3 separate regions of the Homo sapiens genome follow, and regions 2 and 3 are each linked to region 1. The links come from fine-mapping of genetic effects on gene expression. A gene starts in region 1. Each other region holds a variant in brackets. All regions are shown on one strand. Distances are between the middles of the regions.

What was found. PIP is the estimated chance that this variant, and not a neighbour inherited with it, causes the effect. A credible set is the group of variants that fine-mapping cannot tell apart.
Region 2: its variant is the best candidate, but not a certain one, in a credible set for the expression of ZFP90 in nucleus accumbens (GTEx, PIP 0.51).
Region 3: its variant is the best candidate, but not a certain one, in a credible set for the expression of ZFP90 in lymphoblastoid cells (TwinsUK, PIP 0.63).

Annotation. Positions count from the first base shown.
Region 1 is chr16:68,537,787-68,540,554 of GRCh38, reverse strand. ZFP90 (ZFP90 zinc finger protein) reads right to left here and starts at 1,264. Exons shown (of 5, transcript NM_001305203.2): 1 at 1,076-1,264; 2 at 730-797. The coding sequence starts at 762.
Region 2 is chr16:68,562,627-68,565,394 of GRCh38, reverse strand. ZFP90 (ZFP90 zinc finger protein) reads right to left here. Exons shown (of 5, transcript NM_001305203.2): 5 at 1-2,351. The coding sequence ends at 697. Among named protein-coding and RNA genes, the nearest start is that of ZFP90, 25 kb to the right of the region's middle. The variant T/C (reference allele first, on the strand shown) is at 1,291.
Region 3 is chr16:68,584,523-68,587,290 of GRCh38, reverse strand. No RefSeq gene overlaps it. Among named protein-coding and RNA genes, the nearest start is that of ZFP90, 47 kb to the right of the region's middle. The variant T/C (reference allele first, on the strand shown) is at 1,107.

The sequences.
Region 1 (2,768 bases):
ATATGTAAATCAATGGATAACCTTAGAGTTGTGACGCTTCTAGAAAATGCCCCCTCTGCCACAAGAATAAATGGGTTCACGAATCAGCCTCACATTAAGGTGAAGGCTGGACTTCTGGCGGTGGGGAGTGAGTTGCTCTATTACATTTTTGTTAAAGCAGAAAAGGACAGACACAAAAAGCTCTGGGAGAATCAGCCCTGGTTTTATTTTTGGTTGTTTTTTATTTTGTTTTGTTTTTGCCTCCTTGCCCAAGAAAGCCCATCTCCAGCCTCTTCCTAGACATGTTCTAACCAGGCTTCTACGGCCCCTTACGGACTCTCTATGGGCCCTGGGTCAGAAGCTGGGGCTCCTCTCTCCACACTTGCCGACAGTCACTTCCTCCTCTACAGTGTTCCATCCTGTGACCCCACTCTCTCCATTTCTTATTGACAAGAGTTCAAAAAACTGGCGTGGCATTCAGGACTCTCAAAACTGACACTTCCCAACGCATCCAATCTCAACTCCTCCCACAAGATCGCACCACACTGGCCCTCTCTACCCCACAGAGCAGCCTCCCCTTTGGGAATCCAGCTCCCCAAAGCCTGGGGTTTTCCATGGCCAGGAGGCTCCGATCGAGCCAAGCAAGTAAGGGAGTCGCCAGGCAGAGAACAATGACTGCTCCAAACACCCTTGGGAGATGGGATGGATAGATGGATGGGATGCCCAGGAGGTTAGGAACGCGTTGCTCACCTGGGGCGCGGCGGTCGGAGGCCTCGGGGCCATTCCTGCCTCGCCAGGGCCCGGCTCCGGGGCAGGAGCTGGGGAGAAAGGACAGGGCCCACTCACCCCGCTGCAACACCGACCCCACCCCGCCCCGCCCCGCCCCACCTCCGCCCCTAAACCACATCTCCAGGGGAGATGGTGGCGAGGACCGTGGAACCAGCCCGGGCCTGCCGCTCCCCATCCCCGAAATGAAAGGCTCAGCGGCCTCCCGGACACCCCCCTCCGGCCACGCCCAGTCCCCTTCGCAGGGTGGTGGGCGAGGCCCGGCTGACACCCGCCAAACCCAGGAGGGGTCCCGCCCAGACCCGCGCACTCAGAATCACCGCCTCTGGGGGGCTCCGGATTTCGCGACCTCCGGCCCACCCAGAGCCTCGGGCAGCTCCTCCCGCCCCCGCCGAAGCCTCGGTTATCTCCAATTCTGATCTGCGGAGGGGCTGCCCAAAGGGGCCTCAGCCGCACCGGGGTCGGACAATGGCCGCAGCGGTGGGGCAGAACTGGAAGTGCGCCTGCGCACTCGGAGCCTCGCTCCTGCAACCCCGGGTCCACGCCGGGCGCGCGAACTACACTTCCCAGAGGCCCGCGCGCGCAGGCCCCGCCTAGGCGGCTTCCGAAGGCGCGTTAGGGACCCTTGCGAGGGCCGAGGGAGGCGGCCAGTGTGGCTCGAGTGTGCGTGTCCCTGTATTCCAGTCACTGTCCGCCTCCTCTTTGCAAGGGGCTTGTTGCTAGCTGGGGAATCGGCCGGGAAAGACCCTGGTTTCGGGGAGCAATCGTACGCCCCTTTCGACGAGGCTGACGATAAAAACGCAAACATGTCAACAAGATAATGTCAGGTCCTGACTTCAGCGGTAAGAGTGACACAGGAAGGGAGTGAGACAGCGTCAGAGGGTGGGGCATTTACATCTTCTTCAAAAGGCAATTTTCCATTTCTCATTTTAGAGAAAAAAGAAACTTCGGACAAATCCGTGGCCTCCTGAGCAATGTGCAAAGGCAGATCTACTGCCGTGTTATTTCATTACTTCGTATCCCCTTACGCAGGATTTTGTTTGGGACAAGCAAACAATGATGGAAATTTTCTTTTTTTTTTTTGAGACACAGTTTCGCTCTTGTTGCCTAGGTTGGAGTGCAATGGCGCGATTTTGGCTCACCGCAGCCTCCGCCTCCTGGGTTCAAGCGATTCTCCCGCCTCAGCCTCCCGAGTAGCTGGGATTACAGGCATGCGATGCGTCACCAGGCCCGTCTAATTTTGTATATTTAGTAGAGACAGGTTTTCTCCATGTTGGTCATGCTGGTCTCGAACTCGCCTCGGCCTCCCAAAGTGCTGGGATTACAGGCATGGGCAACCGCGCCCGGCCCGATGGAAATTTTCAACACAAAGATAGGTCAACTTTTAGATACAGCTATTACGTTTATGTAATTATGTCTTATATATCACAGACATTCAGGCTACATTTCCTAGATTTCAGCTTGATTTCTTAACATTAGAGCATTGCATACCAACATGGTAGAAAATGACTGCAACGAAATGTTCCTGATGTCACACTGCTTTATCAAAAATATGAACATTCAAAAATAAATGCTTTATGCCGGGTGCGGTGGCTCAAGCCTGTGATCCCAGCACTTTGGGAGGCTGAGGCTGGCGGATCACCTGAGGTCAGGAGTTCGAGACCAGCCTGACCAACATGGAGATAGCTCGTCTCTACTAAAAATACAAAATTAGCCAGGCTTGGTGGCGCATGCCTGTAATCCCAGCTACTCAGAAAGCTGAGGCAGGAGAATCGCTTGAATCTGGGAGGCAGAGGTTGTGGTGAGCCGAGATTGCACCATTGCACTCCAACCTGGGCAACAACAGCAAAACTCCATCTCAAAAAAAACAAAACAAAAAAGGGAGAAAATTTCCATCACTGTTGGCTTGTCCCAAACACAAAATCCTGCGCAAGGGGCTAACAAGTAATGAAATAACACGTCAATAGCACAGGGAGGCTGAGGAGGGAGGAGCCCAGGAATTA
Region 2 (2,768 bases), 25 kb before region 1:
ATAGGTGCCCATTAAATGTTTGTGTATCTGATACATCTTAAAATTTATTTTAAAGCCCTCTGAGTCCAAAAATAACCTTTTCACTGGCAAGGCCATGGGGCCCCAAATCCAGGAAACCTGCATTTTTAACCCAGCTTTACCCTTATAGGCTGTATCATACTGTGGAAACCACTTCACATCTTTGGCTTTCAGTCTTCATCTGTACAATGAAGTGGTTGGGCTAGTTGATCTAATTCTTTGAATGGTGACTTCCTGGAGTTGGAACTGGTTTCCATGGTGAAGTTAATGTAAGAGCTGCAGTTGAGTGCAGTTGTCAAGCAATTTTTAAAATGGGTTTTGGTCATTACTGCAGGAATTTGCTTTTTAAAAAAGCTGTTGACATTGGGGGTCACAAGTCAAGATGTTGAAACTTGATGATATCCTGCATACATATATTCAAAAGCAAAGTCCAACATACAGGCATATCATCCCCAACCAGCTACATACATGTAGCTGTTTTTACACTAGTCTGTAATCAGATCTGAGAATGTGTCTTTATGTTAAAAAAAAAAAATCTGTCTACTGGCAGTTTTCTCCACACACAACGTATAAACACACACGTAATTCATTACATTCCCAAGCTCTCTAAGAATCCTCTGATCCTGAATCAGAACATTTTAGCTAAAGCATTCTGCAAATTCCTTAATTTCACGGTTCCTAGAGTTTATTTCGAGTATGAATTCTCTGGTGTTTAGTAAGAGCTGAACTTCGGCTGAAGTTTTTCCCACATTCCTTACAAGAATAGGGTTTTTCTCCAGTATGAATTCTCTGATGATCATGCAGGTTGGTTTTTTTTCGGAAGGCTCTCCCACATTCATTACATTCATAGGGCTTCTCTCCAGTATGAGTTCTCTCATGCTGAATGAGAGATGAACTTTGACTAAAGGCTTTCCCACAGTCAATACATTCATAGGGTTTCTCTCCAGTGTGGGTTCTCTCATGTTGAGTAAGCGATGAGCGTCGACTAAAGGCTTCTCCACACTCATTACATTCATAGGGTTTCTCTCCAGTATGAATTCTGTGATGCTCTATGAAACTTGTACTCCTTTTGAAAGCTTTCCCACATACATTACATTGATAGGGTTTCTCTCCAGGATGAGAAATAGCTTGCTGACTAAAAGCCTGCTCACAATCATAGGGGTTCTCTGCAGTATGGATCCTCTGATGGTCAGTAAAGTCTGTAATGTGACTAAAGTCTTCCCCACAGTCATTACAATGGTAGGATTTCACTTCGGTAAGAGTGCTTTCATC[T/C]TGAGTGAGAGATGTGCTGTGCTTGAAATCTATGCTGTAGTTACTGCTTTGGTAAGGTTTGCCTCTCTTATGAATCCTCATATGTTTATAAAGGGATGGGCTCTGACCAAAAGCCCTCCCACATATGCTACATTCAAAAGGTTTCTCTCCAGTATGAGTCCTCTCATGTTGGACAAGGGAAGAACATCGACTAAAGGCTTTCCCACATTCCTTACACTGGAAGGGCTTCTCTCCACTGTGTGTGACCTCGTGTTGAGTGAGGGATGTGCCATGCCTAAAGGACCTCCCACATAGATTACATCGATAGGGTTTCTCTCCAGTGTGAATTCGCTGGTGTTGAACAAGGGAGGAGCTGCGCTGGAAGGCTTTCCCACAGAGACTACACTGATAGGGTTTCTCTCCGGTATGAGCATTCTCATGCTGACCAAGAGATGAGCTATGCCTGAAGGCCTTTCCACATACATTGCATTCAAAGGGTTTCTCCCCAGTGTGAATTCTCTGATGCTCAGTAAGCTGTGTCTTCCAGAGAAAGGTTTTCCCACAGTCGGTACATTCATGGTGTTTCTTTCCAGGATAAATTCCTTGATCTGTTCCATTAGGGAAAGCTCCCTCTCCTTTATGTGTTTTCTCATGTTTAGTAAGCGATGATCTATGAATAAAGGCTTTTCTACATTTATCACACTTATAGGGTTTCTTTTTTGCAAGAATATTATTCTCATTAAGTAAGTCTGCATTATGTCCCAAATTGCTTCCAAGGGTCTCACATTCACTAGGCCTTATTCTTGCAGGAATGTTCAGTTGTGTAACCAAATTGGTGTTCAATCTAGAATTTTCACCAAATTTATTTTGCTCAAAATTTTCTTGTGGTGTAATTATTTTCTTCTGGGTGGATGCCTCTGATCCCAGATGTCTCTTCCAGTTTTCCTGTTGCCTGTCTAACTGGCTGCTAACATCCCAGGAGTCTTCTAATGTAGCATGTAAGAGATCATGTGTGCAGTGGGATACTTCTGATACATCCTGCTGCAAATGTGATGATTTGACTTCAGGCCTGGTCTTCCAGTCTGAAAGAAATCCAAAGTACAAAAGTCCCCTATTCCTTCCTGTTGAAATACACTGCTAGAGTAGGAATGAAGAAAGACATATAAGTTACATATGACTCTGTTTTGAAATTACTCCTGTATCCTGAGAAGACGACCCAAAATGGAGAAAAGGAAAAGTGAAGAAATGATAGCAAAGACTGCAGATTCAGAGTATGTGGTAAGTCCAGAGAATGAGGAAAGCCCATCTAGGAGGGTTGGTTAGAAAATAAGGAAATAAGTGAGCAGGACTGTGTTAGGCACAGATACAAATGGAACAGGATCACAGCCCATCTTAGGATCCTATATGCTCTCCATGCCTCCTATCCTTTTATAAACCACCACAAAATCTGTCTTCCTAATATATCCATTTCATAATTTCTTTACTGTCAACTCTCAGGT
Region 3 (2,768 bases), 47 kb before region 1:
TAGTCTCTGATAAAACAGACTTTAAACCAACAAAGATCAAAAGAGACAAAGAAGGCCATTACATAATGGTAAAGGGATCAATTCAACAAGAGGAGCTAACTATCCTAAATATTTATGCACCCAATACAGGAGCACCCAGATTCATAAAGCAAGTCCTGAGTGACCTACAAAGAGACTTAGACTCCCACACATTAATAATGGGAGACTTTAACACCCCACTGTCAACATTAGACAGATCAACGAGACAGAAAGTCAACAAGGATACCCAGGAATTGAACTCAGCTCTGCACCAAGCAGACCTAATAGACATCTACAGAACTCTCCACCCCTAATCAACAGAATATACATTTTTTTCAGCACCACACCACACCTATTCCAAAATTGACCACATAGTTGGAAGTAAAGCTCTCCTCAGCAAATGTAAAAGAACAGAAATTATAACAAACTATCTCTCAGACCACAGTGCAATCAAACTAGAACTCAGGATTAAGAATCTCACTCAAAGCCGCTCAACTACATGGAAACTGAACAACCTGCTCCTGAATGACTACTGGGTACATAACGAAATGAAGGCAGAAATAAAGATGTTCTTTGAAACCAACGAGAACAAAGACACAACATGCCAGAATCTCTGGGACGCATTCAAAGCAGTGTGTAGAGGGAAATTTATAGCACTAAATGCCTACAAGAGAAAGCAGGAAAGATCCAAAATTGACACCCTAACATCACAATTAAAAGAACTAGAAAAGCAAGAGCAAACACATTCAAAAGCTAGCAGAAGGCAAGAAATAACTAAAATCAGAGCAGAACTGAAGGAAATAGAGACACAAAAAACCCTTCAAAAAATCAATGAATCCAGGAGCTGGTTTTTTGAAAGGATCAACAAAATTGATAGACCGCTAGCAAGACTAATAAAGAAAAAAAGAGAGAAGAATCAAATAGACACAATAAAAAATGATAAAGGGGATATCACAGATATCCCACAGAAATACAAACTACCATCAGAGAATACTACAAACACCTCTACGCAAATAAACTAGAAAATCTAGAAGAAATGGATACATTCCTCGACACATACACTCTCCCAAGACTAAACCAGGAAGAAG[T/C]TGAATCTCTGAATAGACCAATAACAGTCTCTGAAATTGTGGCAATAATCAATAGTTTACCAACCAAAAAGAGTCCAGGACCAGATGGATTCACAGCCGAATTCTACCAGAGGTACAAGGAGGAACTGGTACCATTCCTTCTGAAACTATTCCAATCAATAGAAAAAGAGGGAATCCTCCCTAACTCATTTTATGAGGCCAGCATCATTCTGATACCAAAGCCGGGCAGAGACACAACCAAAAAAGAGAATTTTAGACCAATATCCTTGATGAACATTGATGCAAAAATCCTCAATAAAATACTGGCAAACCGAATCCAGCAGCACATCAAAAAGCTTATCCACCATGATCAAGTGGGCGTCATCCCTGGGATGCAAGGCTGGTTCAATATACGCAAATCAATAAATGTAATCCAGCATATAAACAGAGCCAAAGACAAAAACCACATGATTATCTCAATAGATGCAGAAAAAGCCTTTGACAAAATTCAACAACCCTTCATGCTAAAAACTCTCAATAAATTAGGTATTGATGGGACGTATTTCAAAATAATAAGAGCTATCTATGACAAACCCACAGCCAATATCATACTGAATGGGCAAAAACTGGAAGCATTCCCTTTGAAAACTGGCACAAGACAGGGATGCCCTCTCTCACCGCTCCTATTCAACATAGTGTTGGAAGTTCTGGCCAGGGCAATCAGGCAGGAGAAGGAAATAAAGGGTATTCAATTAGGAAAAGAGGAAGTCAAATTGTCCGTTTGCAGACGACATGATTGTTTATCTAGAAAACCCCATCGTCTCAGCCCAAAATCTCCTTAAGCTGATAAGCAACTTCAGCAAAGTCTCAGGATACAAAATCAATGTACAAAAATCACAAGCATTCTTATACACCAACAACAGACAAACAGAGAGCCAAATCATGAGTGAACTCCCATTCACAATTGCTTCAAAGAGAATAAAATACCTAGGAATCCAACTTACAAGGGATGTGAAGGACCTCTTCAAGGAGAACTACAAACCACTGCTCAAGGAAATAAAAGAGGACACAAACAAATGGAAGAACATTCCATGCTCATGGGTAGGAAGAATCAATATCGTGAAAATGGCCATACTCCCCAAGGTAATTTACAGATTCAATGCCATCCCCATCAAGCTACCAATGACTTTCTTCACAGAATTGGAAAAAACTACTTTAAAGTTCATATGGAACCAAAAAAGAGCCCGCATCGCCAAGTCAATCCTAAGCCAAAAGAACAAAGCTGGAGGCATCACACTACCTGACTTCAAACTATACTACAAGGCTACAGTAACCAAAACAGCATGGTACTGGTACCAAAACAGAGATATAGATCAATGGAACAGAACAGAGCCCTCAGAAATAATGCCACATATCTACAACTATCTGATCTTTGACAAACCTGAGAAAAACAAGCAATGGGGAAAGGATTCCCTATTTAATAAATGGTGCTGGGAAAACTGGGTCGCCATATGTAGAAAGCTGAAACTGGATCCCTTCCTTACACCTTATACAAAAATCAATTCAAGATGGATTAAAGATTTAAATGTTAGACCTAAAACCATAAAAACCCTAGAAGAAAACCTAGGCATTACCATTCAGGACATAGGCGTGGGCAAGGACTTCATGTCCAAAACACCAAAA